Linked DNA regions of Homo sapiens: regions 1, 2 and 4 are each reported to be linked to region 3. Evidence: microRNA targets listed by miRTarBase, many of them from high-throughput screens and not tested one by one. Region 3 holds a microRNA gene; each other region holds the end of a gene's coding sequence.

Region 1 (7,116 bases), not on the chromosome of region 3:
GCGAGACTCTGTCTAAAAAAAATGTAAAAAGCAGCAGACAGGGAAGTGGGATGAACTCACAGCACACTGAAGGAGACAGGATGAACTGGAAAAGAGGGTTTGGATGGCAAGATGGGATTAGCCAAGTGGGGCCTCTCAAGGGCCTTGAGAGCCAGGTAGTTGAGATTGGACATGATGTGGTTGACAAAGAGCACCATGAACCAGAGAACCTTGGGTTTCTGAACATGGTGAAAGATGAGGTAACATCAATAAATCTGTTAAGATGTGGTTGGCATCAGTTGTTTTTTGCCTTTAACTTTCAATCCTGCCTCCTGTAGCAAAAGGACTTCAATTTCCTTAGAACCACTGTTCTGCCCACATGGCCCAGTGACTCTACCTCTATCCCTAGGTCCAGGGGTGGGCGAGCACAGGAACCAGATCTAGCCAATAGTGTCTTAGGAAGGGTTCCAGGGATATAGCCAGAGGCTTCTGCTAGAGCTGTTGTTATCTTTCTTCCTTGATTACTAAACTGTTGAGATATAAACCTGGGCCTGCTGACACCATCTTGATGCTGCGGGGCAAGAGTCTGAGAATTAAACCAGCACAGAGAATAGCCTAGCCAAGGGATGACAGGGACATTCCATGACATCCTCTAAGCATCTGGATCCAGCTGGGCTTGAAGTGGGACCTATTTTGGGGCATTAGGTTTCTGTCACTTGCAATCAAAGAAGTCCTGACTAATGAATACTCAGGGTCAACTGGGTGAAAGTGGGAGGAGATGAGCATCAGAATGCCCATACCAGCTGGTGTGATGGGAATTCAGACATGAGACACTGAGGGTCTCAACCAGGGCATTTGGGGGCTAGAGAGAAAGGAGGTGAGTTAAGAGGTGAGCAGGAGCTATCTAGCGGTTTCCTTTCTTCGAAGGTTGCCGTCAAGTAGTTTCTAATGGTTCTTTACCACCTCTGCCTTCGTGATGCCCCTTTACCTCTTTCATTTTTCTTTTCTTTTTTTTTTTTTTTTGAGATGGAATCACGCTCTGTCACCCAGGCTGGAGTGCAGTGGCGTGATCTTGGCTCACTACAACCTCTGCTTCCCCGATTCAAGCAATTCTCACGCCTCAGCCTTCCAAGTAGCTGGGATTACAGGTGCCCACCACCACACTTGGCTAATTTTTGTATTTTTAGTAGAGACAGGGTTTCACCGTGTTGGCCAGGCTGAACTTCTGACCTCAAGTGATCCACCTGCCTCAGCCTTCCAAAGCGCTGGGATTATAGGCGTGAGCACTGTGCCCATCCTCTTTCATTTGTTTTTAACCATTTTGTGAGATAAATGAATCAGGCATTCTTGTACCCACTTTAAAGCAGGAGAGGTCAAAGGACTTGCCCAAGGTCGCATGGGAGCGCTGGAGCCTAGTTCTGGTTCTCTAGTGCATGCTAATGCTCGAGCACAGTGTGGACTGAGCTCCCCAGGCCCCGTCTTTCTGTTGCTTCATTGTGGAGATGCAATACCCGGCTCCCGGCTTTTCTTATGACTTCCAGAGAGAAACAGCAGTAGTTCTTGCTGAGGAAAGGCCCAGGAGCCCATGGCCTTCTTCATTAAAATAAATTCTGCCTGAGTCTCCTGGTTCTAAATAGAAGAAAATGTAGATTTGGGGCAGAACCGAAGGGAAAGGGATTTCCCTTGGCAAATTATTTGCAATTTGTGGATTGGAGCTGACCCAGCTCCAATTCCCTCTGTCATTCTAAGTGCCATCTACAATGTGACCAGCTTATTAAAGAATGAGAACTGGAGGCAGTCCTCCCACAGGGGCTCAACAAAACAGGAGCAGAGTCACAGCCCAGCTGCGTCTTCCTCAGTGTAGCATGTCTAGTTGCTGGCTAGATTCTCACCCTTCAGTTACATGTTCATGCCTAGGCAGCCACTTCTGGGGGCTGTGGGAAGAAGAGCGAGAATATTTATGAGTTGTTTGTGCCTTTCCTTTGGCAGTATGAAAAGCTAGCTGTCATAAATACTGTAGTGGTCCTCAGACTATAGCATGTAACAGAATGCACGTTCTTGAGTCACTGCCAGGGATTCTGAGTTCGTGGGTAGCTCAGGATCCGCTTTGTAAAGAGGCATTCCAGGTATTAATACTCCTGGAGCAAGTGGTCCATGGACCACAGTCTGAGAAACACTGATGTCAGTGGAGCACTAGTGTGCAAACTCCAAGTGGCCCCCTTCATCCGTGGTTTAAAGATGCTGCTGTTGCTGGCACAAGTCCCAGGAGATCCAGTGTTTCCTTCTTTACTAACAGGGTCTGTTACTGGCATAATCTGAGGAACATTCAGAAGTCTTTCTCGACTAAGAAGATCTCCAAGGAGCAGCTGCATCTAGAGTTCTAAGGACTTAGCTTCTCCTGTACTCCTTTTAAATCACAGATAGCTACAGAGAACAGCACTTCTGTTGTTCAGTCTTTATTTTTCATAAGGGAAAAAGCCCACTGTGGCATACCTGCAGCAAGTGAAAGTGTAAATACAGCTCCTCTGTCTGCATACTCCACCCTATCAGAGCCCTGGGCTCTCCTCACAGCCCCCACCTTTCTCTGTCCCCAAAGGCTGTACCCAAGATGTACAGACCTAGTAAGAAATGCTTTTAGAGTGTCAAGTGAGTTTTTTCTTCTTTCGGACATCTCTATTAACAAAATCCTAAAGAAAATCAATGGATTCCTATTTCCTCATCCATTCATACCATCAGATCCTTCTCAAATTGACCACAGAATCAGTGGCCGTCACAATGAAATTGACTGCATATGAAATGAATCTGAAAATTCCATTTATTAAAACACATACATTGTCCATGTGGGATGAAAATGTGCACATCACATTCAGGTTTTCCTGCTTTAACATTTCTGTAGTTCTCTCTTTGAAACACACACTCCACAGATCTTATATAGGAAAAATGTGAACAACTTTTGGGCTGCAAAACATTAATGCATACATAACAATTCATCATTGCCAAGAGCAGCTAGAAGCAAATATTAAGGAAGAAAGACAAAGAAGTATAAAAATTCCTAAAGACAGCATGCTTTATTTTCTCAAAATTCCATATGTGACTATGAGCGTATGGAGAAATCGTTTGATTTTTAAATTTATTGTTTTGTCCTTGGTAGGCAATCTCCTTCAAATATTATTAGCAAAATCAAACATAGATCAAAGTATGTATTTGCATCTTCTGATTGAAATTAAACAGTACTTGGTTTCAAATGTTTTAAAAATAACACTTTTTAAACTGGAGTTGATATTGAGGATCATGTAAAATTATTCTTTATAGACTTTGCATTCTAAATATGAAGTTTATTGTTACTACTTATTAGTTAATTCCACGGCAGATTTTCATTTCTATCGAATATATTATATGTAGAAACTAGGGCCTTAAATAATTAAGCTGACTTTTCCTATTAGTTATTCCTTAAGATAAAATTATGCTGGTGAAAATGACTGTTGAATTTCTCAAGAAATTAAGCTCTATAGAGGCATAAGTAATCGAAAGACTTTTTCCCCTGAATAAGTACAAATACCAAGAAGCCAAAACTCATATAAAGATTTTCGTATTATAATTCCATACTGTAAGACATAAAATTATGAAAAAGCCAAAACATTTTCCTTAAAATGCTCCCTAGAAATTGTAATTCCATCTTAATTGCTCCAAAGATCTAGATTTACATGGAAATATAAAGAGTCCTTCTGAGAAAAGGAAATGCTGTGAATAGTGGAAATCGTCTGGGCCTTCTAATGATGCCTCAGTCACCACCAAAGAGTGTTTTATTCATTCATCCGTGTTTTCATGTGACCACATACTCAATTCATGTTTTGGCCCATGTAAAAACTGTGATATGTTTTAGCTTATTCCATAGTGTTACTAAGCTAATTGTACAATGCTGTAGTTTAATAAATACTCTGCTGTTTTTTTCACCCCTAAATCTTCATGGGCGTCCTAACTGTAACAAAAACCCCACAATTTGAACAGAAGAACAGAAGTATCTGGTTACAGAAGTGCATTCATACATTTCACAAATGTTTCAGTATCCTCTTCTCCCCGACCCCAGCATGAGCTTTAATTGGATGTATTTATTCTTTCACCAGCATGCCCATGAAGGAGCTAAGGAAAACATTTACCAAGTCTGTTTCAAAATCTGTCCTTGGCATATCAAACTTTTTCTCTTCCTTTTTCATGCTTTTTTTTTAAAAAAAAAACAGGAGAAAGCGAATAGAGAGGAAAGAGACAATAAAATTAATTGGGAGATGGAGATGATATTTGGGGATTTGAAAGCAAACAAGATGTAAGAGAGGCCCTCTTTGACTGAAAATGACACAGAAAAAGGTGATCAAGTCTTCCAGGGCCTGCTGTTACTGATGGAGACTACAGCTACAATGAAAAATTACTCTCACTACCATATCTTGGGGAAGGAGCGCTCTAGTTGCAAGGAATTTGTAAATAAAGGCCGAGAGACTCTAACAAACAAGATGGAGAACAAAAACAAAGATTCCATTAAAAAATTTGTTAAGTGAAAAACCAAGACCATCTCAGTGGACAAAAGAGCCAGAACTCTTCCTCGTAGAGCCGGCCGTGGGGACCGCACCTGCCGCCCAAAGAGTGGCGATTTGAGGTCCTTCTCCCTGGAGAGTGAATAGCTGGAGTTCTGAGAATGGTCACCTTCTCTGGAGCTGTGGGTTTATTTCTTCTGATACTTGAACAAAGGAGGGCCATGGTTTTCTTGTTAAGAGCACAAAAAAATGTTCTTTTAATCTAGAATGTCCATGATTCAGGGAAAGAGGGAATTTGCTCATACTCATGGCAAAAGCATTTCCCAGCTCATGGTGAATCCTTAACTCTCCTGCTTGGTGACAGCTGTGCTGCCCTGGGTCCTGGATAAACCAAAATGCTTTGGATTCTGGAAAACGTATTGAAGAGGCATTTATACCACTATTAACTAGGAGGTATTTTAGGTGTGGCTAAGGCTCTGAAGTAATCTCAATTTTCAAAATACTGAGATTTTCTTCCCTCTCCGGGGTCTTTTCCCTCTCATTTCCTTTCCCAGCTTTAGAGTAAAACAACAAAACTTCTGAATGGATGTAACATAGGGACATTTTCATGCAATATTACTCAAAAATTGTCACAAATATATGAAAGCACCAGTCACAACACAGGATTTACTTTTACTTGCAGAATCAAAGCTATCATGTACACATGTTAGGAATAGTGAAAAGAGAACACAGACAACCGGCATTTTTTGTCGTTGTTACCATGAGGATACACCACGGGGAACATCTCCCTAAACATTTTGTGTGATCATTCTTGGAGTTCAATCTGATAGACCAGTCCAGCCTTATCTCCACACTACTCTAATGGGGAGGGGTGGAAGGAGGGGTAGAGGAGAAGGAAGAAAGAAAAAGAAAGGCACAGTGACTATACATCAATGCCATTAAACCGAATTGCATCTACACGGGACAGCTCAGCTTATCAAAGGGTATTCTAAAGACAATATTCATTCCAAGAAGGTCACACATATCTTACCTCAGTACAGCTGTCTGTTTTAATTGTTATTTTTCAAAATATGAAGCAGAAACATGAGGATTTTGGGGGGGGGGCTGGGGGATAGCAGAAAAGAAGTGACACCAATTTTATTTTTATATATTCCCCTCCTCCAGGCAGTTCGTCAGAATCAGATCTCTTAAGTCAGGATGTGGATCGGCTTGCATTCTCATAAAGGGGACCAGATCTTTAAACATGCATAGCCTAGAGTTTCCAGAATGGTTCTCCTCGCTCTCTTCAAATGCCGTGGACTAGAAAGGTGCCCACTTCACTAAAAACTCTACATCAATGTCCCAGGAGCCCGGAGGCTCTTCAGGCCCCTCTCAAAGACTTAAAGGATGGCACAGAAAAACTTCTTCTCCCTAAACGGGTTTTCTGAAGCCGGAACAGGGGTCAGGAGGGGGTCTTCCTTGGCATGTGCTTCACAGTAGGCCATCAAATCTGCAGCTGCCTTGGACACCTGGAAAGGGAGACAAAAACAACCAACACTGGAGTCTGGTACAGTCAGTCAAGGCCCAAGGCTTTAGAGCCCAATGTCCTGGCATCAAATCCTTGCTCCATGAAGCAAGATACTCAGCCTCTAAAAGCTTCTGCTTCCTCATCTGCAAAGAAGAAAGTTGACGACACTGACCTTACAGGATTGTTGCCAGCAAGTCTGGGACTAGGTTAAGGTGAGTGAGGCACTTAGGGTGCAGAACCGAAGGAGGCACTCGCTGGCAGGGGCATGCAGGTGTCAACCCTGCACTTCCATAGCCCCGCAGGTGGCTGTCTCCTTCATTTGTTTTTTTTTTTTTTTTTTTTTTTTTTTTGAGATGCAGTCTCGCTCTGTTGCCCAGGCTGGAGTGCAGTGGCTTGATCTTGGCTCACTGCAACCTCTGCCTCCTGGGTTCAAGCAATTATCTTGCCTCAGCCACCCTAGTAGCTGGGACTACAGGTGTGTGCCATGGTGCCTGGCTAATTTTTTGTACTTTTGGTAGAGACAGGGTTTCACCACGTTGGCCAGGCTGGTCTTGAACTCCTGGACTCAAGTGATCCACCTGTCTCGGCTTCCGAAAGTGCTGGGATTACAGACGTGAGCCACTGTGCCCGGCCCTCCTTCACTTTTGTGCTCCGATATCTCATTGCCCCACCCTGGTCCCAGCCCTGGTAACAAGGGTTAAATGAAAAAATCCCTGTAAATCATTTAGTGTCTGGCACATAGCAAGCTTTCCACACAGGCTAGCCATTATTATCATTTTGTAGTCGTGACTCTCTGCTTCAGGAATTGTGCTAGGGATGCCTAAAACCATGTCAATTTCCCTTTTTAAGCAGATGCAGCAGGAGATATATCTATGTATACACACACTATATAGAACATATTTTTATACTTCATATATATTAAAATTTATACCTGTGACTTTAACCAAGCATTGTGCCCTTTAGTGATATTTCACTGGGAGGTCGTCACTGATTCTGGCGATGCTGTCATTTCTTACAACATATTTGTAGCTGCTTGTTATGAGTTCCCTGTAGTACCTTCCTTCAACCATCTTCACCAGAGGAAATTTTTACTACATTAGAGCG
Region 2 (7,116 bases), not on the chromosome of region 3:
CATTCAACACCTACTGGATTGGGCCCCTTCTCTTGGACTGTGCCAAGCTAGGGGTGAATGGGAGCAGAGGCAGCGATGGGACTCAGTCACTTGCAGGAGAAGGACAGATAAACCAGAAAGTTCCTGGTAGGGACATTCCAGACTGGAAGCCCCACAGTAGCACAGGCTGCTGGGTTTGGGGAATGGTGAAAGGTGTAGTGGTAAAAGCAGTGGGGGCAATGTGACAGGGCATGAGGCCGGAGAAGTCAGCAGGGCTTCAGGTTCCCATGTCAACTCAATGGAGAAGGAAAACCAGGGAACTGGCTTGCACAATTGTAGGGGCTGATTAAGCAGTTTCTGTAAGGCTGTATCTCCAAGACTGACGGAGCTTGAAGTCCACAGGCAGGTGGTCAGGAGGGGAACACCATGAGCACATGAGCATACTGAAACCCCACTAGCACAGGGAGGACCCGTGACAACAGACTGAAACCTGTGTCTATTCTTTTTGTCTCTGACCTCACTGATGAAGGTAGAAGCTGGAACCCTTAGCCACAGAGCTAGACGTGCACACACCTGCCCCAGGAGTCAGAAAAAACTGAAGGAGAGTCCGGGAAAAGCACAGCAATTGCAGGTCCAGGTGCTGCTTCATGCCAATCAGGTGAGTCAGCAGATCAGCAGTCCAAATGGTTGCTTCCTTCCAAATCTGATGAGAATCTGCCTCCTGGCCCACCCTGATGGAAAATATACTAGTCAGGGAGTTCTGGAAAATATGGTTCAGCCAGGCCAAGTTGGCATGTTACAAAGCCCTCCCAATTCCACAGTTAAAAATGGGTGTGGGGGGTGGTGAGGAGGGCTTCCAGACCAGGTAGAGCATTCTAGCCAACTGGAAGACACAGACTCCACCTGAAGAGGGGCAGTGACTACCCAGCTCTTACTGATTGTTTTCAGAGCTTCCCAGTTTTCCAAATAATGTTAGAAGAAGCACCTCCTGAAAGTTTCCAAGTCCCTCTCTGGAGGCTGGGAGTGGTCTGGCCATGCAGGGAGGAATGGGGTAGGGTACCTCAGTGCAGCAGTGGTCCTACATGGGGCCTGGTTGTCGGAGGCACCTCCTCAAAATTTTTGAAAGTGGAAACTAAACTATTTTCTGAAATTTCCCATTATTTTAAAATATGGACTTAAAAAACACCCCATACCCATTAGAATGGCTACTATGAAAAAACAGGGCTGGGCATTGTGACTTACACCTATAATCCCAGCACTTTGGGAGGCCAAGGTGGGAGGATCACTAGAGCCCAGGAGTTCAAGACCAGCCTAGGTAATATAACGAGACTCCCATCTCTACAAAAAATACAAAAATTAGCTGGGCATGGTGGTGTGTGCCTTTAATCCCAGCTACTCAGGAGGCTGAGGTGGGAGAATCGCTTGAGCCCAGGAGATGGAGACTGCAGTGAGCCAAGATCGAGCCACTGCACTCCAGCCTGGGCAACAGAGCCAGACCCTGTCTCAAAAAACAAAAAACAAGCAAACAAACAAACAAAAAAAAACACAGAACATAGAAAGTGTTGGCAAGGATGTGGGGAAACTGGAACACTTTTGCACTGTTGGAAGGAATGTAAAATGGTCCAACCGCTATGGAAAACAGCATGGCAGTTTCTCAAAAAATTAAATATAATTACTATGCAATCCAGCAATTCCACTCATGGGTAAATGCCCCAAAGACTGGAAAGCAGTGATGAGAAGAGCACATCCATGTTCATAGTAGCACTATTCACAATAGCCAAGAGGTGGAAGCAGCCCAAGGGTCCATTGACAGATAAGTAGATTTTTAAATATGTGATCTACCCATACAATGGAATATTATTTGGCCTTAAAAAGGAAGGAAATTCTGACCCATGCTACAACATGGATGAATCTTGAGAACATTATGCTGAGTGAAAATAGCCAGTGACAAAAAGACAAACACTGCATGATTCCACTTAAATGAGGTATCTAGAGTAGTCAAATTCAGAGATAGAAAGTAGAATGGTGGTTATCAAGGGCTGAGGGGAGGGAAATATGGGGAGTTGTTTAACTTTCAGTTTTGCAAGATGAAAAAGGTTCAGAGATTGGTTGCACAACAATGTGAATACAATTAACAGTATTGAATGTATATTTTAAAATGTTTGGCCAGGCACAGTGGCTCACGCCTGTAATCCCAGTACTTTGGGAGGCCGAGGCGGGCAGATCACCTGAGCTCAGGAGTTTGAGACCAGCCTGGCCAACATGGGGCCAACAAACCCCATCTCTACTAAAAATACAAAAATTATCTGAGCATAGTGGTGGGCACCTGTAGCCCCAGCTACTCGGGAGGCTGAGGCAGAAGAATCACTTGAACTCGGGAGGTGGAGGTTGCAGTGAGCTGAGATCTTGCCACTGCACTCCAGCCTTGGGGGCAGAGCAAGACCTCTGTCTCAAAAAAAAAAAAAAAAAAAAAAAAAAAAAAAGGCTAAGATGGCAGATTTTATGTCACATGCATTTTACCAGAATTAAAAAATAAATATATATTGTATGGGCCAAACAAAATCACTGTGTGAGCTAAATGTGGCCTGAAGTCCCCCAGCTTTGAGATTTCACAACTGGATCTTCTATGAGGACACTTCTGGCCACTTCACAAGACAAGAAGCCCCAAATGATGATGTCCTGAAGGGGACTCAACCAAAGGTAGCCATACACTAGTGAAAGCCAGAGACCTATCTGCCAGTGCTGAGTGTCTACACCTGGGTAACAACCTCTCCATAGAGGGTTGTCATTAGGACCCCAGAGCCTTGCCCAGTGCACCTTATAAATATGCCCTCCCAGAGGCTCCTTTTCTTGCTCGCCTCTTCTTGGCTCTCCCAACCCCTATCCTTCTTCTGGCTGCCTTGGTTAGGGACTGTGAAAGACTCTGCCTTTTACAACTTTCTGTGGTAGGACAGGGGTTTGGATGGTGCGGTGGTTCACACCTTTAATCCCAGCACTTTGGGAAGCCAAGGTGGGAGGATTGCTTGAGCCCAGGAGTCTGAGATCAGCCTGGACAACATAGTGAGACTCCCATCTCTACAAAAAATATGAAAATTAGCCGGGTGTGGTGGCATGCGTCTGTAGTCCCAGCTACTTGGGAGGCTGAGATGGGAGAATCACTTGAGCCCAGGAGGCAGAGGTTGCAGTGAGCCAAGATCGTGCCACTGCACTCCAACCTGGGTGACAGAGCAAGACCTTGTTTCGGAAAAAAAAAAAAGTTCTGTATGTACTGAGGACCCTCTCAGGCAGACAGTACTCAGAGGAGCCTGAGCCAAAGCTCCTATCCCCAGGGAATGAGGTTCAACCCTTCCCATCACTTGTTCCTCACTCTGGTTGAGAAGAAAGAGGCCCAGGTAAGAATGGGGAGCTCCTACAGGCCCAGGTAGGAATCTAGGAGTCTGAGACCTCCCTTACTGCCTCTGGTTCCCCCCACGACACCCACCCTCCAGACTCTTCTTGGCTACAAGCAAGATCTCATCCAACTTCCCCAAGCTGATACACTACTCCCAAGCCAGGAGTCCCGTGGACTTGTCCTTAACTTACCTATGTCAAGCCATATGCGCTTGCCTGGGTCTGTTTCCACCTCTATACAAAGCAGGTTTGGCTTTAGGCATACAAGCCTTGCATGAGACAATGGATCAAGATGGACTTGCAGACAGGACTGAGGGGCAGGCACCTGTATCCATCAGGACCAGAAATCCCAGGGACCCTCTGCCTCCTCTAAGGCTACAGTGCAGGGAAGCATACCCTTAAGACTTAGAGCCAAGCCTGGTCACTGCTAGAGGGTGAAAGGGAGGGAGGTGGGAAGGACTGCTATCTGGGAGCCAAGCAGAGGGGCCAGATGGCCACATCCTAGGCCTGCCCCCACCTGCGCCAGAGATTGGTAGAGGGCCTGGCTCCACCTGGCCACACCTAGACAGGCAGGTGGGAGCTACCCTGTTTGGTCCAGATTTGACTAAGAACAAAAGACGGGAAGATGTTCCATTGCTCTAGTAAGCAGGATTAAATGTTGGCAAGGTGGGAAAATGAAGATTCTTATGCCCCTGAAATATGTGAAAATTTGGAGAGCAATTTGGCAATACCTAGTAAAGCTGATGACTTAGAGAAAAAGAAGTTGCAGAATGCCCAAGATGATACCATTTATGTAAACCTGAAACTCATAAAATGATACTGTATGCTCTCAGACATAAGGATTTGCTTTTTTTTTTTTTTTTTTCTGAGACAGAGTCTCACTCAGCTGCCCAGGCTGGAGTGCAGTGGCGTGATCTTGGCTCACTACAACCACCGTCTCCCGGGTTCAAGCGATTCTCTTATCTCAGTCTCCCAAGTAGCTGGAATTACAGGCACCCAACGTCATGCCCGGCTAATTTTTGTATTTTAGTAGAGACAGGGTTTCACCATGTTGGCCAGGCTGGTCCTGAACTCCTGGCCTCAGGTGATCCACCTGCCTTGGCCTCCCAAAGTGCTAGGATTACAGGAGTGAGCCACCTCGCCCGGCCAGGATTTGCTTCTAACATCACGTTTATATGAAAGTATAAAAACTTGAATGAAAAGGAAACAAGCCCCTGCAGGCATTATATTCTTTCATGTTAAAATGAAAAGACCTCACCAAACTAATTTGCAACCATGAGAAACAGTGGGGAGATGATAATGAAAAACAAAGGGAATTTCATTTTTGTCATTTATTAACCTGGAAGCAAATATGACAAAACAGTCATACTAGTAAGTCATCTGAATTTTTTAAATCTCTTAATAAAACAACCAAATCCCACGCAAATCAGTCCACAAGGGAGGCCCCCGCCTCCACAGTGCAGGGTGACTGAGTGTACAACTACGGGCCAACCCCCGCCTCTCAACCGGAAGGGAGGGCACTCAAAAGAGGAATTTAGAGAAAAGGCGGAGAGGGCGGACCTCGGGAAAGGGTCTGGGCGGGAGCCCCACCTGGCTCCCCACCCCTCCCGAAACCAGGGGAAAAGCCTGTGGCGTGGCGCTGCTGTCTCCCATTAGCAGTTACAGGGCCGAGGCTTCCCGCTGATTGGTGGAAATTCCGATCTTCTGATCCCTGATTTGCATAGAGACTGGGGCCTGCACCCCCGCCCCCCACCAGCAGCAATCGGCCAACGCCAACGGTGCTGCGCCAGGAGCGTTCTGGGCTCGGCGCCGCCCAGTCCTCCTGGTCATCTCGGAAGCTGTTTTCTTCCAGCTGCTTGGGACAGCTTTTGTGAATGCCTCCCTTAGGGATGTTCGAAAGAGGAGTGGCCCGACACTGCTAGAAACTGGTCCTTTCCTTCCCACCTGTGGTAAGGATAGTTTCTGCTACGGCAAGCACTCAAACTCAGGCTGGTTTGAAGCTAAAGGATTCAGACGACTTCCAAGTATCAAGAATGAAAGAAAAAGAAACATAATAAGGAGCCCACCACCAAGACTTGTAGTTATTTCCTCAGAAAGCCCCCATGCCCCATTTGTGACAAAATCCATTCCTGAAGACTGATTCTAGAAGAAACCAAGTAAGATCTAGAACTTTCCCCACCAGCATCACTTTCCAAAATGTAGGCAGAAGTTTACCAAATACAATTTATTCAGGAAAAAAATAAATTTTAAGAACTTATTTTTATTTTATTTTAGAACTTAAAAATAAATTTTTAAGAACTAAAAAAGTGAAAGAGCCCAGTGGCTGAGCAGAAAACAGCTTACTACAAGGAGTACCAGATCAGGGCAGAGACTTCCCAGCTGGGTAAGGCATGCTTTGAGGGAAGACTCCACCAGCCCTGCCAGGAAAGGGCAGCAGGCGCAGTGCCCCTATGGGGCCCACATGGCTGGTAACAGCAGCAGGACACCTCTTCCAAAGCTGTCCACCAGCCCCACTAGGGGCTCCTACTCATGGCAAAAAAGACTACATGAGCCCACAACTGTCAACTAACACAGTGCCACCTCCTCCCAAAGCAAACACATATACATACAATGTTAAGAACCTATTATCAGAACAGCAGTGCAGCAGACCCTGGCCTTGGTCTCTGAAAGTCCTGTGTCACTGGCTGTAAGGACGCTTGGCCACAGGTTCCTCCTCCTTCTCCCGCTTCAGCCATTGCTCTAGGAGTCCTGCAGTGCCTCTCTTGGTGGGGAGTGGACTCTTCTGCAGGAACTGACTGGACCACTGGGGAACATCTGACTCTTCCTTTTGAGGTGTTTTTGAGTCTTCCTTTTTGGGTGACTTTGTGGCCAACCACTGCAACATCCTCTGGCTACTGCCACTTGCCCTGAGCTCCTACAAGAAAGAGGAAAAAGCTCAAACCATACAGCTCAAGCTTTTGGGAAAAGGCCAAGTCCAAGGGAAGAAACAGGGGAAGAGGCATTAGGTACTTACCCAGGCTTGGAAAATGTTACTAAGGGCCAGCTGGGGCCCACCAGTCAAGAGTGGAAAGAGAGGAGTGTGCTCTAAGGGGCAGGAAAGTAGATCTTAGAGAAGGTTTCACAGAGGATTGTGTGGGACCAGCCAGAGAAGAGAGCTGAAAGGCATTCCAAATGTGCAGAGAATGAAGCATTCTCAGGGAAAAGAATGTAATTCAGCATGACCCAGGGGGAGTGTTGGAAAACGAGACTGGAGAGATACAGAAGAATTTCTAACAGCCACTGTGATAAGGCTAAATTGTTTCCTCTTTGTGCAGACAATCTGTACAACCTCTTCTTGACTGTCACTACTCCCTTCTGCTTCCTTTACATCACACCCCAATCCTGAACTGAAAGGTTCTGAATTAGCACAATGCCACCTCTCCAGAATGTGACATCTTTTGGAGTAAACACCATGGCAGGGCTAGGTACAGTGGTGCATGCCTGTAATCCCAGCACTTTGGGAGGCTGAGGTGGGAAGATCGCTTGAGCCCAGGAGTTTGAGACCAGCCTAGGAAACATAGGAAGACCCCATCTCTATAAAAAATTTAAAAAAATGAGCCAGGCATGGTGGTGTACGCTTGTAGTCCCAGCTACCTGGGAGGCTGAGGTGGGAGGATCATTTGAGCCCAGGAGTTCGAGGCTGCAGTGAACTATGATCATGCCACTGCAGTCTAACCTGGGCAACAGAGCATGACCCTGTCTCTAAAA
Region 3 (7,116 bases):
AATCCATTTACTCCACCTTCAGTTACATTGTATTGGGAGTTACATTTATAGGGACATAACGCGTTGTCACATTTCATAAATACACATTCATACCATTTGTCTTGTACCATTCCTGGTAGCAGAAATTAATAAAGGACCTCAGGGAGACCAGGGGCTGGGTATGAGAATGAGAGAGGATCCCAAGATATTTTAGGACTCTGAGTAGTGAAGGAAAGAGCTGGGGCAGGGACAGGGGGCAGATGATGTGAAATCTGAGTTCTAGAAGGAGTCCCTAGTTTTTTTTTGTTGTTTTTTTTTTTGAGACGGAGTCTTGCTTTGTCACCCAGGCTGGAGTGCAGTGGCACGATCTCGGCTCACTGCAAGCTCCTCCTCCCAGGTTCACACCATTCTCCTGCCTCAGCCTCCCGAGTAGCTGGGACTACAGGCGCCCGCCACCACGTCCGGCTAATTTTTTGTATTTTTAGTAGAGATGGGGTTTCACCATGTTAGCCAGGATGGTCTTGATCTCCTGACCTTGGGATCTGCCCGCTTTGGCTTCCCAAAGTGCTGGGATTACAGGCGTGAGCCACCGCGCCCAGCCAGGAGTCCCTAGTTTTGACCATCCCCGGGTTCTCACAGGGTTCAGAGGAAGAAGGAGAAGGGGAAGAAGAGGAGGAGGAAGGAGGAGAGTCTAAGGCAGATGATCCCTATGCTCATCTTAGCAAAAAGGAGAAGAAAAAGCTGAAAAAACAGGTAAGACCTTGGTTCTTAGCGGTCAAAAGTAGGGGATTTTTAAATACTTCAACTAGGGGACATGCGATTGGGGACACGAAGGAAAGGTTTGGGGGCTACTCCAAGTAAAACAATCGGAGTAAGAAAATAATTGTGTTCTGTGAACCTTATCTCAATGTCTGATGACATGGGCTGTTTCACTTTGGGGTTTTTTGTTTATTTTTTGAGACAGGGTCTCACACTGTTACTCAGGCTGGAGTGCAATGACGTGATCTCTGTTCACTGCAGCCTCAACCTACCAGGCTCAAGTGATCCTCCCACCTCAGCCTCCCGAATAGCTGAGACTATGGGTGGCACCACCATGCCTGGCTAATTTTTGTATTTTTTGTAGAGACAGTATTTTAGCATGTTGGCCAGGCTGGTCTCAAACTCCTGAGCTCAAGAGATCCACCTACCTCAGCCTCCCAGAGTGCTGGGATTACAGGCGTGAGCCAGCATGCCCAGCCAGCATGGGCTGTTTCATGGTGATGGGAAACTGGTAGACTGTGGCTTCAAATGTAGTTTTTCCTACCTTCTCAGATGGAGTATGAGCGCCAAGTGGCTTCATTAAAAGCAGCCAATGCAGCTGAAAATGACTTCTCCGTGTCCCAGGCGGAGATGTCCTCCCGCCAAGCCATGTTAGAAAATGCATCTGACATCAAGGTAAGGTCTCAAGGGGCCCCTTCCAGTCCACTTACCTAGGGAAGAGCCAGTTCTCTCATCTTCCCTGAGTGGCTGTGGTGTGTGAATGGGTTAGTTCAGTGGGAAGAAAGATTGGAGGCATTTTCCACACCTTAGGTTCTGCCAACTTGAGCAAGAAGATAGAAAAACCAGTAGAAGTGGGGTCCACCCTTGGCAGAAAATAGTGTGGGACAGACTAGACTAGCTGAGGATGCATGGGGCTCCCATTACAGGCAGCGAACAGGGCGGGGACCGGCTGTGGGGAGAGGAAGGGGATTATGCTGGAGGTAGCGGTTTGTCAGAGGCTTCCCTGCAGGGAGAAAGTGGCCGCTCCTGTCCCAAAGGGAGAATTTTCATGTGATCATCCCTTCCCTCTGCCACCTCTTTCCTGATGGCTGCAGCTGGAGAAGTTCAGCATCTCCGCTCATGGCAAGGAGCTGTTCGTCAATGCAGACCTGTACATTGTAGCCGGCCGCCGCTACGGGCTGGTAGGACCCAATGGGTGAGAAGAGGAGGGAGCTGGAGGCAAAAAAGGGCCTGGAGGGAAAAGAAGAGATTTCTCAGTGGTGGCCAGGTCCTAATAGCTTTTATTCCCCAGCAAGGGCAAGACCACACTCCTCAAGCACATTGCCAACCGAGCCCTGAGCATCCCTCCCAACATTGATGTGTTGCTGTGTGAGCAGGGTGAGACCACTGGGGAGAAAAGGGGCTTGGTGGGGTGGGCAGTTGGGTAGAAAAGCCAGCCAGCCAAGAATAGAAGAAATTGTGGCTATGGAGTTGGAAGGGATGTGGAGGGAGACTGGAGACCGGGAAAGGGATGCTAAGGAAAGGAGGGGAGGGTCAATGAGGAACTTGAGAGTGTTTTATTTGGAACAAGTACAAAGAGCTGGGCAGGGTCAGGCAAAACAGAAATGTAATTGAAGGGAAAGAAAGATGAGACTCTTGGCTCTTGAGGCTGCCTGACTGTTCTCCCTCTGCCTCCCAGAGGTGGTAGCAGATGAGACACCAGCAGTCCAGGCTGTTCTTCGAGCTGACACCAAGCGATTGAAGCTGCTGGAAGAGGAGCGGCGGCTTCAGGGACAGCTGGAACAAGGGGATGACACAGCTGCTGAGAGGCTAGAGAAGGTAGAGGAGATGGCGCAGGGGACACGGGCAAAGACTTGGGGGTTCCTGGGACCCTCAGACGTGTGTCCTCTTCTCCCTCCTCCCAGGTGTATGAGGAATTGCGGGCCACTGGGGCGGCAGCTGCAGAGGCCAAAGCACGGCGGATCCTGGCTGGCCTGGGCTTTGACCCTGAAATGCAGAATCGACCCACACAGAAGTTCTCAGGGGGCTGGCGCATGCGTGTCTCCCTGGCCAGGTGGGCCATTCACCTCACTGCCCTCCCTTCCAGCCTCAGACCACCGGGGCCCTTTTCCTCTTTCCCTTCTCATTCTTCCAAGGCCAATAGGGAGGCTCAAGGCTTACCTCTCCCTCCTTACTATCTGTGTTGTGAGAACTTAGGGTCTTTCTCTATTTATCTCCCTACTTGGTGGTGAGTTCTCATCAACATACCCTGCAGCTGGGTGCAATGGGTCACGCCTGTAATCCCAGCACTTTGGAAGGCAGAGGCAGGAGGATTATCTTCAACCCAGGAGTTTGAGACCAGCCTGGGCAATATAGTGAGACTCTATCTTCACAAAAGGGGGAAGAAAACATATCCTAGCCTGGGCAACATAGGGAGACCCTGTCTCTACAAAAAATTTAAAGATCAGCTGGATATGGTGGCGCACGCTGTGGTCACAGCTACTCTGGAGGCTGAAGTAGAAGTATCACTTAGACCTGGGAGATTTAGACTACAGTGAGCCCTTATTGTGCCACTGCACGACAGCCTGGGCAACAGGGCGAGACCCTGTCTCAAAAAAATTAAACCGTATCCTGCCCGAGAACTTCTCTGAGGAGAGCTTGGGAAGGAGTGTTCATGGTCTCAGGCTCTATCTCCGAGTTTTCTCTGGGGTTGTCTGAGCAAGGATCTTTCTCTCCCTGACCCTGCCCTCTGCTACCCACCCTCTAGGGCACTGTTCATGGAGCCCACACTGCTGATGCTGGATGAGCCCACCAACCACCTGGACCTCAACGCTGTCATCTGGCTTAATAAGTGCGTTACGGCCTTTGCATCATTGGTTCCCATTCTGCACTTTCTTCCCCTTCCCTCCCTGCCCTGTTTTCCTTTAGCCCTTCTCCACTGTGCCTGTGAGTGGAGCTCTATTCAGACCCCCCTTTCCCTCCCAGCCCCCGTTGTCTGCCTGCTTCCTCTGAATTCTCTCTCACTTGACCACTGTGACACTTACACCCTGTTCTCTGAAACCCAGCTACCTCCAGGGCTGGCGGAAGACCTTGCTGATCGTCTCCCATGACCAGGGCTTCTTGGATGATGTCTGCACTGATATCATCCACCTCGATGCCCAGCGGCTCCACTACTATAGGGGCAATTACAGTAAGTAGGATTGTGTGTGGATGCAGGGAAGAGATAGAACCTCGAAAAGAGGCCTGAGTGGGAGGGCCTATTTAGATAAACTGAATCCTGTCAGAATTCCAGACAGTGATGCCTACCCCATCACCACCAGTCCCTGGTTGTCCCTTTGCTGGGAAGAGGAGCAACCACTGATGCCTGGTCCCCTCTTCTGCCCCAGTGACCTTCAAAAAGATGTACCAGCAGAAGCAGAAAGAACTGCTGAAACAGTATGAGAAGCAAGAGAAAAAGCTGAAGGAGCTGAAGGCAGGCGGGAAGTCCACCAAGCAGGCGGTGAGCACCTGAGGGACTTCTGGGCTGGGGGCCACTGTTCTCTCCTGGCAGTGGAGGAAGAAGGAGACTCTGGAACGCTGGCCTACATTTCAAGGACTGCCGCGCAGGGCTCAGGTTTCTCTTTTTTCCTCTTCCTCTCCAGGAAAAACAAACGAAGGAAGCCCTGACTCGGAAGCAGCAGAAATGCCGACGGAAAAACCAAGATGAGGAATCCCAGGAGGCCCCTGAGCTCCTGAAGCGCCCTAAGGAGTACACTGTGCGCTTCACTTTTCCAGACCCCCCACCACTCAGCCCTCCAGTGCTGGGTCTGCATGGTGAGTGCCGCGGGCCTCTGCTGCTCCACAGGAAGCACCGGAAGCATGTATGTGCACCCTAAATTCTCCACCAAGGCTGAGATTGCTCCTGTTCTCCAAGGCCAGCACATGAGAGGGACTTTGCAGGGACTGAAAAGAATATAAATTGCTTCTTTTCGTGGCTTTCAGGTGTGACATTCGGCTACCAGGGACAGAAACCACTCTTTAAGAACTTGGATTTTGGCATCGACATGGATTCAAGGAGTGAGTTGGCGGGGTTGCCTCAGGGATGTGTAGCAGGAGCCACAGGGAGAGTCTCTGGGGACCTCTTTGACCACCTGTCTTCCATCTTGCAGTTTGCATTGTGGGCCCTAATGGTGTGGGGAAGAGTACGCTACTCCTGCTGCTGACTGGCAAGCTGACACCGGTGAGTCCTGGAGCCAAGGAGGGAGAGCATGAGAAATGTGAAGACACAGCTGCTTTTGCCAGAAGCTGGAATCAGGGAGCCTCTCGAGAATGTAGAGTTAAATACAGAACTCATGATAGATGATTCATTTCCCTAAGAGGGGCAGTAGAGGAGGAAAGAGCTTAGATCAGTTCAGGGGGGAGAGCTAAGAGAATTAAGATAGAACTAGGGGGCACACCCACGTGTTTTGGTTATACAAGAAATATATGTCTTTTATAGAACGATTAAAAATTGCATAAACGGGCCAGGCACAGTAGCTCACTCCTATAATCCCAGCAGGGATCACCTAAGGTCAAGAGTTCCAGACCAGCCTAGCCAACATAGTGAACCCCGCCTCTACTAAAAATACAAAAATTAGCCGTGTGCGGTGGCGCGCACCTATATCCTAGCTACTCAGGAGGCTGAGGCAGAATTGCTGGAACCTGGGAGGCGGGGGTTGCAGTGAGCTGAGATTGCACCATTGCACTCCAGCCTGGGCAACAGAGCGAGACTCCATCTCAAAAAAAAAAAAAAAAATTGGCCTGGCGTGGTGGCCCACGCCTATAATCCCAACTCTTTGGGGGAGGCTGAGGCAGGCAGATCACTTGAGCTTAGGAGTTAAAAACCAGCCTGAGCCCAGTGTGGTGGCTCACACCTGTAATCCCAACACTTTGGGAAGCCGAGGTGGGAGATCACCTGAGGTCAGGAGTTTGAGACCAACATGAAGAAACCCCATCTCTACTAAAAATACAAAATTAGCCAGACGTGGTTGCACATGCCTGTAATCCCAGCTATTTTGGGAGGCTGAGGCAGGAGAATCACTTGAACCCAGGAGGCAGAGGTTGCAGTGAGCTGAGATTGCGCTATTGCACTCCAGCCTGGGCAACAAGAGCAAAACTCCGTCTAAAAAAAAAAAACAGACCAGCCTGAGCAACATGGTGAAATCCCATCTCTACTAAAAATACAAAAATTAGCTGGGTATGTTGGTGCACGACTGTAGTCCCAGCTACTCGGGAGGCTGAGGTAGGAGAATTGCTTGAGTCCAGGGGGCAGAGGTTCCAGTTAGCCGAGGTCGTGCCACTGCACTCCAGTCTAAGTGACAGAGTGAGGCTCTGTCAAAAAAAAAAAAAAAATGCTTAAGTCAAGAGAAAAATCTGGAGATAACCAGTTTTTTTTTTTTGTTATTTTGTTTTGAGACGGAGTCTCACTGTCGCCCAGCCTGGAGTGCAGTGGTGCGATCTTGGCCCACTGCAACCTCCACCTCCCAGGTTCAAGATATTCTCCTGCCTCAGCCTCCTGAATAGCTGGGATTATAGGTACGCCCCACCATGCCCAGCTACTTTTTGTATTTTTAGTAGAGACAGGGTTTCACCATGTTGGTCAGGCTGGTCTCGAACTCCTGACCTTGTGATCCGCCCGCCTCAGCCTCCCAAAGTGCTGGGATTACAGGCGTGAGCCACCGCTCCCAGCTGAGATAACCAGTATTAATGTTTTAGTGGATATCTTTCTCCTTTTTTCTTTGCAAATGTGCATATAATTTTTAACAAAAATGGGCTGTCATATGAGTTGTTGTGTAGCTAGATTTTTCCAAATATATCAAGCATTTTTCCATGCAATTACTTATTTCATATGAGTCTACCTTTTTTTTTTGAGACAGAGTCTCACTCTGTCACCCAGGCTGGAGTGCAGTGGCACAGTCTTGGCTCACTGCAACCTCCGTCTCCTGGGTTCACGCGATTCTCCTGCCTTAGCCTCCCGAGTAGCTGGGACAACAGGCGCGTGCTACCACGCCCAGCTAATTTTTTGTATTTTTAGTAGAGATGGTTTCACCGTGTTAGCCAGGATGGTCTTGATCTCCTGACCTCATGATCTGCCTGCGTCGGCCTCCCAGAGTGCTGGGATTACAGGTGTGAGCCACCACGCCCGGCAAACTCTACCATTTTATTTGAACTTTTGTAATATATTGCCATCTAGTGTGTTAGAAAGTTTGTAGCCATTTCTGCTCTCTCTAGCAGTGTTGAGAGGCCATTTTCTCATATCCAGAGATTAGATCTTTAGAAAGGTATTATTAGATTCTCCCCAAAACACTAAACTTGCCACATGAGGCCCTTACGATGTACCATTCGTGAGTCTCGCTGTATGGAGAGCAGGTGTTCTTTGGC
Region 4 (7,116 bases), not on the chromosome of region 3:
TTGGGAGGCTGAGGCGGGCGGATCATGAGGTCAGGAGTTCAAGACCAGCCTGGCCAATATGGTGAAACGCCATCTCTACTAAAAAATAAAAAAATTAGACGAGCTTGGTGGTGCACGGCTGTAGTCCCAGCTACTTGGGGGGCTGAGGCAGGAGAATTGCTGGAACCCGGGAGACTGAGGTTGCAGTGAGCCAAGATCGCTCCATTGCTCTCCAGCCTGGGTGACAGAGCAAGACTCCATCTCAAAAAAATAAATAAATAATAAAAAAACAAAAAATTAGCCAGGCATGGTGGTATGTGCCTGTGGTCTCAGATACTTGGGAGGCTAAGGTGGAAGGATGGCTCAAGCCCAGGAGTTTGAGGTTTCAGTGAGATATGAATTTGTTGCTCATTCTGAGCAACAGAGCAAGACCTTGTCTCCATTAAAAAATAATAATAAGGCCGGGTGCAGTGGCTCATGCCTGTAATCCCAGCACTTTGGGAGGCCGAGGCAGGCAGATCATGAGGTCGGGAGTTCAAGACCAGCCATGGTGAAACCCCGTCTGTACTAAAAATACAAAAATTAGCCTGGCGTGGTGGCACACACCTGTAATTCCAGCTACTCGGGAGGCTGAGGCAGGAAAATCGCTTGAACCCAGGAGGCAGAGGTTGCAGTGAGCCGAGATCGTGCCACTGCACTCCAGCCTAGGCGACAGAGCAAGATTCCATCTCAAAAAATAATAATAATAATAAAATGTGATCATAATTTGAGAAAGGCTGCTCATTCTAACCATACATAAAAACAAGGAAAGCAGCAATATTATTGTAAAAACCCACCAACTGTTTCTTTTCTCCATTGCCAACGTCGGATTGGGCAAATCCTACCTTAAAAAGCACTGGCTTGCCTCGGTTTATTTTGCATCATCCAAAGGCCCTCTAAGGATCTCTGACTCACAGACCCTCACCCCAGACAGGTTTTATACACAGGCTCTCCCAGTCTCTTTCTTCCCATGGAACTCCAGTGAGATTGGGCTCATTTCTATCCCTCAGTTAACAGAGAGCCGATCAGGAGTGACTGACAGAAATCATCCACCAAAAATAACCAAGCTTGCCCGAGGAAAGTAACTTTCTTTCCATGCTTCTTCCTCTAAACCTAGTCTCTTTTAAGTAAAATAGTCTGACTCTTATAAGAATAAAACTAAAGGCCGGGCATGGTGGCTCACGCTTGTAATCCCAGCACTTTGGGAGGCCGAGGTGGGTTAACCACGAGATCAGGAGATCGAGACCAGCCTGACCAACATGTTGAAACCCCGTCTCTACTAAAAATACAAAAAATTAGCCAGGCATGTGGCGCATGCCTGTAATCCTAGCTACTCAGGAGGCTGAGGCAGGAGAATTGCTTGAACCTGGGAGGTGGAGGTTGCAGTGAGCTGAGATGGCACCACTGCACTCCAGCTTGGGCGACAGAGTGAAACTCCGTCTCAGGAAAAAAAAAAAAAAAGAGGAAGAAAACTACCAGCTCCAGGTAAAAGGCAACACTATTGTTGTTACCGCCTTCTCCAGGACAGGAAAGGCAAGCCCAGGGTGAATAAGCAACTTTTGGGCACCTACTAAATGGCAGGCCCTGTGAGGCAGACACAAAGTCACAATTGATGCCCTCAAGAAGCTTGCATTCGGCCGGGCGCGGTGGCTCACGCCTGTAATCCCAGCACTTTGGGAGGCCGAGGCGGGTGGATCATGAGGTCAGGAGATCGAGACCATCCTGGCTAACAAGGTGAAACCCCGTCTCTACTAAAAATACAAAAAATTAGCCGGGCGCGGTGGCGGGCGCCTGTAGTCCCAGCTACTCGGGAGGCTGAGGCAGGAGAATGGCGTGAACCCGGGAAGCGGAGCTTGCAGTGAGCCGAGATCCCGCCACTGCAGTCCGCAGGCCAGCCTGGGCGACAGAGCGAGACTCCGTCTCAAAAAAAAAAAAAAAAAAAAAAAAAAAAAAAAGAAGAAGCTTGCATTCTAGTGGGAAAACAGAAATGTAGTTAGTTTCATTATAAAACCACAAAGTAAATATTAAACAGGGATAGGAACAGTTTGTCCTGACTGCAGGAGTGATTACTTCTGACTTGGAAATCAGGAAAGGCTTCATGTCTGTTGTACCTGGCTTACACTTGGAAGGATATGCGTGATTTTCATAGAAGAGTTGGAATGAGCATAGCAGGCTAGAGGGAACAGCATGAGGGATACATGAAAATAAATAACAACTACAATGCATAGTACATCAGGTGTAGGGCAGGATCTGGAAGAGAAATGTAATCAGGATCAGATTGAAAAAGGTTGTAGTTCCATGCTTGTGTTTGGACTTTGTACTTATTGGTGGCATCATAGAGGGCTTTTTTTGGCAATAAGAAGTTTGGAGGCTGAGCATGGTAGCTTACGCCTATAAACCTAGCACTTTGGGAGGCCGAGGCAGGAGGATTGCTTGAGGCCAAGAGTTCAAGATCAACTTGGCCAACATAGCGAGACCCTATCTTTTAAAGTACTTTTTTTAGGAATTTTTATTTTTCAAAAAAAAATTTGAAGCCAATACATCTGCCAGGACCCCTGCAATGATGATGGGGAGTTACTCAAGCAGTGAAAGTAGGAATAGAGAGAACAGACAAGATATGGTAGAATTGACTGAATATGGAAAACTAAACCAGAGAAGGGTCAAAACATGATTCACCCTCCAATACCCAACAATTTATGGGGATCTTTTAGAGCCAGCCATTTAGTGCCCCCTGGTGGACAGATGAGACCATCACAGCATTAACAGCAACAAGTCACTTAGGCTGTTTCATTCTTCCAGTAAAAAGTTTATATTGAACACTATCCAGACCCTCACTAATCAGCCTCTGCAGAAGCCACAGAGATCACGGCACTATTTTAGGTGAATCTAGTTAGGAGAAAAGATAGACCTCAAATGCCTAACCCATAACAGAAAGTAGAATAAATGACCAAATCCTAAAATATGTGGTGGATAACACTGACATGAGATTTTAGAAAATACTGCAATTTGAGAGGTGGGTTAAGGCTTCAGATATAACAGAGTTTTTTGTTTTGTTTGTTTTGAGACAGAGTCTCGCTCTGTCACCCAGGCTGGAAGTGCAGTGGCTGAGTCTCAGCTCACCTCAATCTCCACCTCCTATGTTCAAACGATTCTCCTGCCTTAGCCTCCAGAGTAGCTGGGACTACAGGTGCATGCCACCACACCTGGCTAATTTTTGTATTTTTAGTAGAGACGGGATTTCACCATGTTGGCCAGGCTGGTCTCAAACTCCTGACCTCAAGTGATCCGCCCACCTCTGCCTCCCAAAGTGCTGAGACTGCAGGTGTGAGCCACTGCGCCCGGCCACAGAGCCATTTCTTTAACATATGATTTTTGAAGAGCATCCAGGTCAGAGGCAATTGTGAACAAAACATCCTGAGAAGTAAATGAAAAAATAGTAAGGTTGAAATACTAAGAAATTCTATAGGTAATGAAGTCTGAAGGTTCAACCTGGCTAGTGATGTAGTGTTCAAGTTTTAAGACCAATCTGACACTGGAATAAAAAATGGAGAAATTAGGATGCCCAAGACAAAATTTAGATATGAAAACAGTGAAAGCCAGTTGTGAAGTCCTAATAAACTAATCCTGGCCAGGAGCTGTGGCTCACGCCTATAGGAAGGCCAAGCCAGGAGGACTGCTTGAGCTCAGGAGTTTGGGACAGCCTGGGCAACACAGCAAAACTGTCTCTACAAAAAATTAGCCAAGTGTGAAGGCAGGCACCTATAGTCACAGCTATGTAGGACACTGAGGTGGGAGGATCACTTGAGCCCGGGAGGTTGAGGCTGCAGTGAGCCACTGCACTCCAGCCTGGGTGACAAAGCAAGACCATCTCAAAAAAATAAATGATCCAATTAATATAAGTTAGCTGGACACATTAAATGGTTACTGCATGGTTGGAAAAACAAGCTTTCCGATTGTCTCTTAGCTAAGTGTATTTTGTCTTCTGCATTTCTTGGGCCCACCTTGAGGTAGAAAAGGTAGCTGGGTGCAGTGGTTCACACTTGTAATCCCAATACTTTGGGAGGCTAAGATGGGAAGATTGCTTGGTCAACATAGCGAGACCCCAAAGACAAGGTTACCCAGACCCCAATCCAAAGCTCTAGGGCTGCAGGCATGGATAGTTCATTTGCACGTAAGCTGTATCAGGAGCACACAAAAGCGCCATTAGGTCAGTAATTCGGCTATTCCTTTTTTTATTTTGAGACAGTTTCACTCTGTCACCCAGGCTGGAGTGCAGTGGTGTGAACTTGGCTCACTGCAAGCTCCACCTCCTGGGTTCACGCCATTCTCCTGGCTCAGCCTCCCGAGTAGCTGGGACCACAGGCACCCGCCACCTCGTCAGGCTAATTTTCTGTATTTTTAGTAGAGGTGGGGTTTCGCCATGTTAGCCAAGATGGTCTTGATCTCCTGACCTCGTGATCTGCCCACCTCAGCCTCCCAAAGTCCTGGGATTGTAGCAGTGAGCCACCATGCCCGGCCCAATTCAGCTATTCTTTTACTTTCCCAGGCTTATTTCTCTCTCAAATGCCAATCAGGGTTACATGTTATCCAGAAAACCTATCATTCTCAACTAAACACATAATGTTCCTGCTAGTTGTAATGTAATTCCTACTCCTTAATTCACAAGTGGCAACCTCCCTTCCACAACACCAGTACTTCTACCACAAGGCAGAATTAATAGCCATCTGCGATCTAAGAGAGAATAGGAAGATAAATAATCCTTACACCCAAAAGGCCAAACAATTTTTATTTTCAAAAACAACTTTATTCATGACACATATTAAAAAAAAATTCCCACCCCTGGAAATGAGCTAAAAAAATAAACAAAATCCACCTCCCACCTCCCTGTTCCCACTTCCTCCCATTCCCTCCAAATAAAAGGGAAAAAAGGCAAAGGAAAAAAAAAAAAAACAAAAAAACAAAACAACTGAAAAACAAAAACACCCCTAAACCCCCCAAAACAAGGTAGTGCATTTCCCCAGGGGGAAGGGGAATTTACACTGGAGCCGCTGGGAGCGGAACGGAGATCTTCCGGCTACAGAAACCTGCAAAGAAAGACACTCAAAACAGAAAAAGAAACACAAAAGGAAACAAAATAGATCACCAGGCAATCTGGAGGGGCAGGGAGCCGGAGAAGAGGGGTGGGGTGGGTGGTAGACCTGGCTGGACAGGAGCAGGCAGGAGGGGACTGTGAAAGGCGAGGAGAAGACGGAGGGAAGGTAACAAGCAGAACAGTTTGGTGTCCTTCCAGAGCCCTGGGTAAAAAAAAAAACCTCCTACCACCCACGCCCACCTACCCTTGAGCAGCCCCCAAGGGGGTGAAGTGGGGCAGGGAAACATGGGCAGCAGCTTGCGCAGTTGAGACGTGTCCATGGCGAATCCCCAGAGTGAATAAGCAGCCCCCTGCCCCACTCCCTGGGCCTTCCCCTACTCCCCAAAGCAGGTCCCTCCTCAGCAGTTAGTTATGGGATTCTCCCCCCTTCCACAGTATATCTTTTTTTTAAAAAATATTTTTTTTCCATCAAGGTCATCTTCTGTTTTTCTTTTTTTTTTTTTTAATTCTTTTTTTTTTCCTTCTTTCCTCTTTTTTTCCTCTCTCTCCTCCTAATACACACTTTTTTTAGTAAGGGGAATACCATGATGTCGCTCTAGCCCGGCCCCTGGAAGAAAGAAGGAGAGTTAGGTGTTAACGTGATCACTAGATAGTTCAGTACAAGCCCCTCCCCGTAGGCCCCTGCCCCAGTTACTGTGAAGGGAAGGGGGGAAAAGAAGTGTTCAAGTGTCCTAAAACTGACCCCATGATCCCAGAAATAGTAACGCACCTGGAGAACTGGGGCAGGGGGAGGGGGGCTTAACAGAAAACTGCCAAACAGTGGCGAAAAAGAAGCGCATCTGAGTGAGAGACAGGGGCAAGGAAAAGGACCCCCTTTTTATCCAGTTTTCAGTCCTCCACAGCTCTTAAACCCTAGGCCATCACAAATAGATCCTCCCTAACTCCTGGGGATAGGCAGGTAGAGCTTATGAAAAGCCAAGGTTTATATGCCTAACCCGTCTATTTAAATGTAGAGACAGAAGTGAAGCAAGGCAAAAACCTGGGCACCACACTAGGCCCAGTGAGAAGTTAACCTTGCAAGACTGGCTCAAATAAAGAATAAGTATCTCAAAATCCTCCCACAAGGCTGTTGGGGAGGATCAACTAGCTAGCCTCTGGTATTCTTCCAAGGGAGGTTCAGTCTTCAATCCCTCCCTAACTCCGAAAAAAGTAACAAATGTCCAAGCAGTGCTTTCACTGCCTGGAGGCCCTGTTCCTCCCAGTTTTGTCCGCAAACACCTTCAAATGCCACCAACTCCCAAGAAAAAAAAGGCTGGGGGTGGAAGCCTCTTTGAACCAAGGGAGGGATGCAGCCCTTATCACCAATTTCTACTGCAGAAAAGATGATGAGGCTGGCCTTCTGGCCTGGCCTGCAACTACCTTCCTCAACCTGCACAGGCAGGAGACAAAGTTCCTGAAGACCACGGGGAGGGGTGGGGGGAGGGAGGTTCCTCAGACCAGAGAGGAGGAAGCATACGGGGCTCACGGGAGGCGGGGGAAAGAGGAGCAGCCCATCTATCCTGACCTGTAGACGCGACCCCGGGGCCTGCTGTTAAAACCACTGTAGAATCGAGAGCGGGAGCTGTTGTAGTTGGTGGTCCGGGCGCGGTAGCGGGCTCGTGGAAAACCCCGGTCTGTTGTGCTGATGCCTGGTCTGTTGGTTCGTTTTGGGATCACCTGAGTCAGAGATGAACAAATGATAGCCTTAAAGGCAACCTGGAGAGTTTATACACAACTAGAACAGCAATGGACATAGGCTTACCTTGATTTGCCTTCCTCTAAATAGGGACTCATCTAAGGCCAAGGAAGTCCTCACTGACTCTTTGTCTGAGAACTCTATATACGCAAACCTGAAAAGAATTGTCATTGTATCTCTCTGAGGTTACAAATACCTCACAGGTCAAATTCAACCTGCAGGCATGCTTCGTTTTGGGCTACAATGCAGTTATATTTTTTATTTGTCAAAA

What was found. The annotated mature microRNA hsa-miR-877-3p reads UCCUCUUCUCCCUCCUCCCAG and lies in region 3 at 2,622-2,642, shown strand. An mRNA with a match to its seed (bases 2 to 7 or 8) in the 3' UTR can be bound and repressed. Matches are read on the target gene's strand: a 7mer-m8 pairs with bases 2 to 8, a 7mer-A1 pairs with bases 2 to 7 and ends in A, and an 8mer does both.
Region 1: miRTarBase lists GNG2 as a target of hsa-miR-877-3p. Seed matches in the 3' UTR shown: 8mer at 4,046-4,053.
Region 2: miRTarBase lists HMCES as a target of hsa-miR-877-3p. Seed matches in the 3' UTR shown: 7mer-m8 at 5,855-5,861.
Region 4: miRTarBase lists PABPN1 as a target of hsa-miR-877-3p. Seed matches in the 3' UTR shown: 7mer-A1 at 5,637-5,643.

Annotation. Positions count from the first base shown.
Region 1 is chr14:51,965,456-51,972,571 of GRCh38, reverse strand. GNG2 (G protein subunit gamma 2) reads right to left here. Exons shown (of 4, transcript NM_053064.5): 4 at 2,777-6,013. The coding sequence ends at 5,885. Among named protein-coding and RNA genes, the nearest start is that of RTRAF, 21 kb to the left of the region's middle.
Region 2 is chr3:129,303,756-129,310,871 of GRCh38, reverse strand. HMCES (5-hydroxymethylcytosine binding, ES cell specific) reads right to left here. Exons shown (of 7, transcript NM_020187.3): 7 at 4,686-6,283. The coding sequence ends at 6,047. Among named protein-coding and RNA genes, the nearest start is that of H1-10-AS1, 9.0 kb to the left of the region's middle. RefSeq lists enhancers at 550-609, 4,730-5,314 and a cis regulatory region at 4,750-5,250.
Region 3 is chr6:30,581,776-30,588,891 of GRCh38, forward strand. It overlaps MIR877 (microRNA 877), which reads left to right and starts at 2,557; the gene lies at 2,557-2,642. It overlaps ABCF1 (ATP binding cassette subfamily F member 1), which reads left to right. Exons shown (of 25, transcript NM_001025091.2): 9 at 619-732; 10 at 1,291-1,413; 11 at 1,833-1,933; 12 at 2,030-2,115; 13 at 2,417-2,556; 14 at 2,643-2,791; 15 at 3,485-3,568; 16 at 3,783-3,907; 17 at 4,104-4,216; 18 at 4,359-4,530; 19 at 4,699-4,773; 20 at 4,866-4,936.
Region 4 is chr14:23,323,848-23,330,963 of GRCh38, reverse strand. It overlaps PABPN1 (poly(A) binding protein nuclear 1), which reads right to left. Exons shown (of 7, transcript NM_004643.4): 5 at 6,912-6,999; 6 at 6,675-6,826; 7 at 4,801-5,717. The coding sequence ends at 5,678. BCL2L2-PABPN1 (BCL2L2-PABPN1 readthrough) reads right to left here. Exons shown (of 8, transcript NM_001387346.1): 7 at 6,912-6,999; 8 at 4,801-6,826. The coding sequence ends at 6,665. Among named protein-coding and RNA genes, the nearest start is that of PABPN1, 5.9 kb to the right of the region's middle. RefSeq lists a silencer at 2,682-2,771.